Homo sapiens: one gene and its partner. The protein of the gene in region 1 interacts with the protein of each later gene in a pairwise test. Each region holds a gene or a part of one and is shown in the gene's direction. Other genes may lie near its edges.

Region 1 (3,820 bases):
TCTCTTTGATTGGTCTTTTTTCTCTCAGATTCCTTCTGGGAGCCAATATAATGAAAAGACTAAGAACTGCATAGGTAGGAATCCTGGCCACTGACCAGCTGTGAGACGTGGCAAGTGACTTTGAGCCTTTACGTGGCAAGTGACTTTGAGCCTTGTTTTCGTGTTCGTAAAATGAAGACAATGGAAGCATTAATAGCTTTCTCATTGAATTGGGAAGATTGAGTGAAATGATGTATGTAAGAGCAACTGGGCATAAAGGAAATGGTAAGGGGTCTGGCTGGCTGCCTCTTTCTTGGTCTGCCTTCTTTGTTCTTTTCCAGAGGTATTAGTTCTTCTCATCCATTTTTCCTTTGTTCTAGAGCATATTCTGTTAAACAGGTGTAAGTGGTATTTTTGTTTAGTTGAAAAAAAGGTTTATGCCTTCTATTTTTAATGTACAAAGTGAGCGAGTAGAGTATCTCCCATTTCTGTCAGTGTGGTAGAAGATGACTAAAATGACAGTGCGGAGGCCCTTGCCTCTTCTCCCCTCGAATAGCAGCACCCCTAAGCCCTTTAGTTCCATTGGGCCTCAGGATCCTTATCTATAAATGTGAGGGCTTGAATTCAGCATACTGAGGCCCTAATCTATCTCTGATTGCATCGTTGAGAAGATGCTAAAAGTCAGATGCCTCACTAAGTTATGCGGGCCAGCCATGTCTGTTTTGCTTAGCATCATAGGCCCCCGACATCCAGAATACCTGGCCCATCGAAGATACTCTGTGAATGAATGAATGAATGAATGAATGAATGAATGAAGACAGAAAGAAAGATCTTCATGACAAAGAAGGTAGTCCACATTCAGCAGGAATTATTTTCAGGGCACCACTGACTTTGTGGGCCCCTCTTCTACAATTCTGAGTTTAAACTCAAAGTTTCTAATTGCAGAAGATGTTTATTAGCTCAAATGTCAACTTTTTTTTTTTTTTTTTTTTTTTAGCATTTCTTTTCAAACTTCCTCAAGAGTTCATGATCCCTTTTCAATTCCAATTTGTTGCCATCCTTTATAGTCCTGGGTCTCTGTCATCATTTAGCAAGTCAGCTGTGCAAAGGTAAATACTATTTTTGAAAGCACAGGGTATAATTACACAACATCATAGCACCATCTGCAAGGTGCTGTGCCCTTTTCTTTATTTCTCAAGGCTGCATCACATACCTCATTTTACAAATGAAGAAACAGACTGAAAGCAAGGAGCATTCCTTGGCTTCTGAGTTCCTGCTTTAAATACACCACTATCTCTGACTAACACATGCCAGAATTAGGCTCCTTCACACATCCTCTAGTCCCACAGACCTTTGAGGAGCTGAGCCTTGTTCCTCACCACTCACAGGGCCCCTCATGGCTTTCCTGTCAGTGTAGATCTGTGAAACTTTCCATTCTTGTTCCTGCCATGTTTTGTCCTGCGGGGAAAGTATATGTAACTAACATTGTACCCAGCCTTGTAGGGTAGATGTGGTCCCTGCCTTCACGGTTAAGAACAAATTGGAAATATAATCCATTTGTTCACAAAAATACTTTTTGAACTCCCCCTTTGTATAAAGAATATACTATTCCACATATAAGACGTTTTGGGGTAGAAGGTACTATATAATTTAGAGCCAAAATGATGTGGTACACACTAAGTACTGTCTGGATTTGAAGAAATCAAGACATCAGAATTCGCTGGCAGCTTAGATCCTTTTAGATACGTGCAGTTCCTGAAACAAATACAAAGTGTTTCTGGGCAACTTTGGCATACCCTCTGGTGTTAGACTTGTCAGCAAAATTGGTAACTGTTATAATAATATTGTGACAATGTCAAGACACTTCTAAAACCTGAAATCAGACCATTCAATAATACCCTAATTGTTTTCTTTCCAAACTTAGGTAAAGTGGTGATTGCAAATGATTATCTTTAGATAAAGCAAGAAAAGTAGACGTTTCAAGGACATGTAGCTTTTGTTTAAATTGGGTCATCATTACCTTTCCTCATTATTTTGCCAAAACTTTTATAGCAGAAGACTGGTGAGAGGAAGGGCAGTGACCACGGGGCAGTGCTGAGAACTGCCAGACTATCTACTGTGTTGGAGGAAGGGATTTCTGTGTCAAATTCTCATTTACTAGCAACATTCAAACAAGCTTCGCTATTTTCTGTGTCTGAATATCTGAAACAGTTGATAACAATTGAGTGTTGGCTGCCATGATGTCACCATCAAAAAATCACGAGAGAAACTCTAATGACTTCTAAATATAATCTGCTAGTTCTCAACTTATTTTATGTATTCAGGAAAAGCAGTTGGCATTATATAAGAAAAGAATTATGAAAACCTGTCCTTTCCAGTCAGTCACTGGCAAGACTTTGCAGCAACATTGCTTTATAACCTTGTCATCTGTGATAGAGTCATCTGTCTCGTATTCAATCCTGAATTCAGAATTTGGGATTATAGAGGCACCTGAGAGGCCAGTTGGCTGGAAGATAGTTCAGCCTTATCAGATATTAATAGAAAAGAGATGATTGTTTAGGCCGAGTGCGGTGGCTCACGCCTGTAATCCCAGCACTTTGGGAGGCCAAGGTGGGTGGATCACAAAGTCATTAGTTCGAGACCAGCCTGGCCAACATGGTGAAACCCTGTCTTTACTAAAAATACAAAAATTAGCTGGGCATGGTGGCGGGCACCTGTAATCCCAGCTACTCGGCAGGCTGAGGCAGGAGAATCGTTTGAACCCAGGAGGCAGAGGTTGCAGTGATCACGCCATTGCACGCCAGCCTGGGCGACAGAGTAAGACTCCGTCTCAAAAAAAAAAAAAAAAAGAGAAAAGTGATGATTTGTTTAGCTAGTTCTACCTCGTATAATTACTAAGAAGTAACTCCTAAAGATGTTTTAGGAGTAAACATTGAGTCAAAATGAAAATGTTACTGGGTCACCAGACCACTGACTGTAGTTAGCTATTTAATGAGACCTTTGATACAGTGGCCAGTGGCCAGCATAGAAGCTTAACTTGCTCTCCTTCCCCACCTTCCAAGGTAGCTAGACAAGGAGTAACCATTCTAACTCAACTAGAAGGCAGCCCTTATAGCGCAAAATGCATCTTTCCACTTTGGATAAAATGCTGTCTCTGCAACAATTTAGCTCCTAGAGAAGACAGAAAAGGCAAACTCGGTTTTTTGTTCTTTGGGTTTATTTTGGCCACTACATGTAAATCACCTTGATTTGAAAAATTCTTGTTACTCTGCCCTCTCAGAATCCTATGTGGTATATGTAGTTGGCTTCCAAGCCAAAAGCAGTAGCTCCATGTATTTATTCCATGAATTCAGCAAAATTCACTGCACCATCTATGAAAGGACTGGTTACGCAAACCTACCCTTGCTGGTCGGTCACTGAGACAGGCCTGGAGCAGATGTTGTAAGCACAAAGGTAGCCAGGCTTTCTGCTTTCTGTATTCATTAGCCTTTCCTAGGTGGTGGATTGGTCTGTTGTTTTATTCCTTTGCTTTTAAAATTTTTGGAATGCCTCTAAAGTTGAGTATTTCTTGCTGAGAGCTGATATTTAAAGTTACTTGAGAAAGGACTTTTTAAAAATTCTATATTTAATTTGTAAATATGCATCTGAATAAGAAATATATTTGCCACAGCAATTTTAAGCCTTTGATAAGCTTAAATGTGTTGGTAATGTCTACCAACACATTTTTGGTCGTTTTGTCCTTTTTGGAAACAAAATTCTTCATGTCTGCAGCCACTTGCATTTTTGGTGGAGACCCATTACCTGCAAGGTTTTTAAGGATTTTGCAGCTTCTGGAAAGCAA
Region 2 (4,514 bases), on another chromosome or scaffold:
TGCAACCACTATAGAGAACAATTTGGAGGTTCCTCAAAACATTAAAATTAACATTAAATAGAGCTACCACAATATCCAGAAATCCCCATGCTGGGTATATACCTGGAAGAAAGGAAATCATATATTGAAGAGATAACATCACTCCAATATTCACAATAGCCACTATTCACAAATGCCAAGATTTGGAAGCAACCTAAGTGTCCATCAACAGATGAATGGATAAAGAAAGTACTCCAATTATACACAATGGAGCACAATTCAGCCATGAAAAAAGCATGAGATCCTGTTATCTGTAATAATATGGATGGAACTGGAGGTCATCATGTTAAGTGAAATAAGCCAGGCACAGAAACACAGATATTGCAAGTTCTCACATACTTGTGGGATCTACAAATCAAAACAACTGAGCTAATGTCTGGGCCTTAGTCAGTGTTGTACCCAAGTACTGGGAGCACAGCTTTTAAAATACATCATGAATGCTTTAATACAGGAATGAATAGATGAGAGGCACAAACTGGTTGGGTGTTCTTCTGATACACAGTATCTTCCTTGACAGATTCAGTACAACTCTCAACAGGTAAGTCTCTTCATGTTATGTTACCTTATGAGGAATTAAGTGGCAGAACATGATTTCTATTATTTTCCTTTGCAGAACAAGACCAACTTTATTAGTTGGGACACAGTGTGGCTGCATTTGAGTCCCAAGCAACCATTAGTCTATTGCTATCACCACAGAGTCAGAGGGGATGAGACGCCCAGCAATCTCACCCAAGACAACTCCACCAACATTCCTGGTTACCCACCATGTGTACAGTACCCTGCTAGGAACCAGGGTCATGAAAGTAAATAATACCAGACTGTGCCCTTGAGGAGCTCACCTCTGCTAAGGGAAACAGGCATAGAAACTTACAATGGTGGTAGAGAGAAAAGAGGACAATAGGACTGTGTGAGGGGGATAGGAGGCACCCAGAGGAGGAAATGGTTACATTTGTGTGAGGAGGTTGGTAAGGAAAAATTTTAGCAGAAGGGGTCTGTCTGGCTGGGCTTGGAAGGATACGTAGGAGTCATCTAGAGGGCACAGGTACACTCCAGGCAGAGGGAATTTCGTGGGTAAAGATGTGTAGGTGTGGCTTGTGAGGATGGATTTCAATTATTCTAGAATGAAGGCAGCCATGGAGGGGCAGGTGAGAGGAGGGTTAATAGATTTCATGCCAATGGCTCCACTTGAGTTTCTGATAAGAACCCAGAACCCTTGGACTCCCCGATAACACTGATTAAGCTTTTCATGATTCCTCATAGAACATGAACTCAAAAGAGGTCAGCAAAGGGGTGTGTGCGATTCTTTGCTATTGGCTGCAGCTATAGCCCTGCCTCCTTCTCCAGCACATAAATCTTTCAGCAGCTTGGCTGAAGACTGCTGTGCAGGGCAGGGAAGCTCCAGGCAAACAGCCCAGCAAACAGCAGCACTCAGCTAAAAGGAAGACTCACAGAACACAGTTGAAGAAGGAAAGTGGCGATGGACCTCATCCCAAATTTGGCGGTGGAAACCTGGCTTCTCCTGGCTGTCAGCCTGGTGCTCCTCTATCTGTGAGTAACTGTCCAAACTCCTCTCTTTGTTTCCTTGGACTTGGGGTGCTAATCGGGCCCCTTTTCCCTTATCTGTTTTGAAGATCAAAAGAGATGTTCAAGGAGAAGTAGCTGAAGTGTTGGACGCTACAAACGCATAGAAGTTATTATTATCTTATGCAGATCTATGAATGAATAAATAAGCATTTCTCCCATCCACCTTCTAATTTTGGTGACTAGGAGGGTTTAGGGACAGCATTTGGTAGTGGGAATGATTTGATTAGCTTAGATCTGACGAAGACTAATCAATGAAAACATGGCAGCGGCAGATTACAAACTGCTGATCATGATGGACAGTGTGATCCTCATCCCCTTCCCAGGCTCTGGGGATTCTGGGTACAGGAAGGAGTGGCTTGCATTTTTGTCTCATTAATTCGCTTTCTGGGTTCTGTGTCTGCTGGAAGGGATGTGTAGCTGTATTGCCCCTGTAGACCTGGTTCCTGCTCCCCCGCCTTCCAACCCAGGATATCATTTACATAACGCACCAGGGGACACCAAGACTTCATGGGAAGCTGTCCCCTGGCTCTTCCCTCTTTCCTGTGCCATGCCCCTGAAAATCCCCTCCCTCCTATGAGTCACTCCTCCACCCTGTCATACACAGGATGGTTTATCTTGCAATGATTAACCTCTAGAGCAAAGGAGACCTGGAGGAAGTTTCGAGGATTTATTCTTTGCTTTAATCTTTTTCCTCCCGTCTCTGGGAGGCTAGGATTAATATAGAGCTTTGTTTCTCACCTAATGGGAATCTACTAGCAGCCTGAAAAGGCAGGAGCCATGAAAGCCAATTTGGATTTTACATATTTTTCCCCTTTATGTTACAGTACAGGAGGGCAAACCCTCTCACTGGTGGGATTCCTGGCATCCTAGAGCAGGTGGAGAGAAGAGTTACTTTCCACTGTGGGTAGTGGAGGCTCCACCTGTCCCATTAACTTCTACCTCAATTTGACTTTTATTAAGAGCAGGGAACCACAATGACATGAAAATAGACACTATAAACCTCATTTTAATTCTTTCACAGAAAGCTTAGGAATTCAGTGAGTTGTGGCAACATGGTTTCCATTGTCTAACATTTTTAAATGAATTGATATGGTTTAAATTCATTCATTTTTAAACCAGAATTTTTTGGAGATAGACTATTTCCAGCATGTTCCTTCTGGATGGTAAAACAGGGCTGTTAGTTCAGTATTTGTGACAATAAGTGTGTGTAAAATAATGTCACCTTTCCTGAATGTCAGGAATATGAGTCTAATGCACAAATGTATACCTCTAAGACAAGACTGCACGTCTTTTCAAATATACCTGTCCGGCCATTTATTTTAATAACTCCTTTTCGAATATACCTGCTTAGCAGATTGTCTTAAACTCTCAGGACAGGGGAGTAAGCAAGACTGTGAGCCAGTGACGATAGCAAAGGCTTCCAGGTAGGATCCATATGAAGTGAGAAAATATTCCTCAGCTCTCAGGGTAGAACTCCAAAGAGATATTCATGGGTCCTGGCCCCACCGTGGAGGTCACTCAAAGGGCAAACAGGTTGGCATCTCATCTGCTTCAAGCCTGGACACAGGGGCACCATCTGTGTCACTCTGTGTGTGGTCTGCCATGTTGTGGGCCGGTCACTACAGACTCGGGCAGCCAGGCAGACAATGCCTTAGCCTTAGACAATGCTGGTGCAGCCCAGGAGTCAGAAAATGCAGTGTAGACCAGGCCCTCCTTAGGCCAACACAATTACATGCAATAGATGACTGGCTTTTCTGTTAGTCTCTTCACTGGACCCAAAGGCTGCATTACTCTACCAGAGGGGAGCTGGAAAGAAACTAAAGAGTTCGCCCAGCACAGCATCTGCCTTGACATGGTACCATGTGAATCTAGACACTCACCAAGATCTTTCCTTGGGGGCCAATGCTGCTGACACATTAACTCAATAGCTTGTCCTCACCTGAGAGGTCAGGTAATGTGTTTAAAGTTCAGGAGCAGAGATTAGTGTCATTGATTTGACATGGCTGTGACAACAAAGGAGGGAACTGAAGTGGGAATACCCAAGGCCACCCTGGCTTTGGCAGGTGGTGCACGCACTTCCACTAACTGTTCTGGGGCAGGGAACCAAATGTATGACTGGGCCTGCTCATGCTGCCCCTGCTGAGTCCTCCAAACCCTGCCCTTCATGTAATTTCTCAGTTTTATTTTATCACATTTTATAAGTCACTGGATGTTTACAAAATGTTTGGAACCTATACTGCCTTGAAGGCTAACCTCTAAAGAGGAGTAAACAAGGTCTTAATACAACTCTCCGGGACGTTTTATCATTACTTATCTTATATGCCATACTGCACCATTTGCTATCAACAGGAAAGTACCTGGACTTTGGAAGGTCCCTCTGTGTCTTTTAGCTGAAAGTACATATGAGGCATGTGGATTCTTTTATGCACATCATCTTTTTCAGCCACATTTTTGTAGTTTGCCTCTCTGGAGCCAACTGTGTGGGGCTAGCAGCTTCACAGCTGAATCAGTGTCTGGCAACCTCTTCCTTCAGCCTCTCTTCTTCCTCCAGTTTTCCATCCCTCAGTCACACCGGAGGGGGAAGGTCTGCAAGGATCCAGAACCATCAGTTGGAGGAGTTTGCACATGACTCATGAAAGATGAGTTCCAGGCAGGCCTGCCATAGTGAACACCAGGCTTAATGGGTTTTTCCTCAGAGATACTTCACGTACAGAGGCAGTGAACTGACTGCTTTCTGGTTGACCACCTTGAAAAAGATGAGTGTGCCTGGCACTGTGCTTCTCAGGTGAGTATGACCTGAGAAGTATTAGTTGCTGGTTCTTCTGCACACAATCATTCAAGGACATATGGATCAACCATCCTCCTCAACAGCTCAAATCAACCAGATCATC

What was found.
Region 2: the proteins of ETV5 (region 1) and CYP3A5 interact in a two-hybrid assay, tested with the Homo sapiens proteins (one large-scale study listed by BioGRID and IntAct).

Annotation. Positions count from the first base shown.
Region 1 is NC_000003.12:186,081,437-186,085,256, reverse strand, and holds part of ETV5 (ETS translocation variant 5), read left to right. Parts: intron 1-3,820. UniProt on the Homo sapiens protein: Binds to DNA sequences containing the consensus nucleotide core sequence 5'-GGAA.-3'.
Region 2 is NC_000007.14:99,676,899-99,681,412, reverse strand, and holds the start of CYP3A5 (cytochrome P450 3A5), read left to right. Parts: upstream 1-1,416; 5' UTR 1,417-1,516; coding exon 1,517-1,587; intron 1,588-4,514. UniProt on the Homo sapiens protein: A cytochrome P450 monooxygenase involved in the metabolism of steroid hormones and vitamins.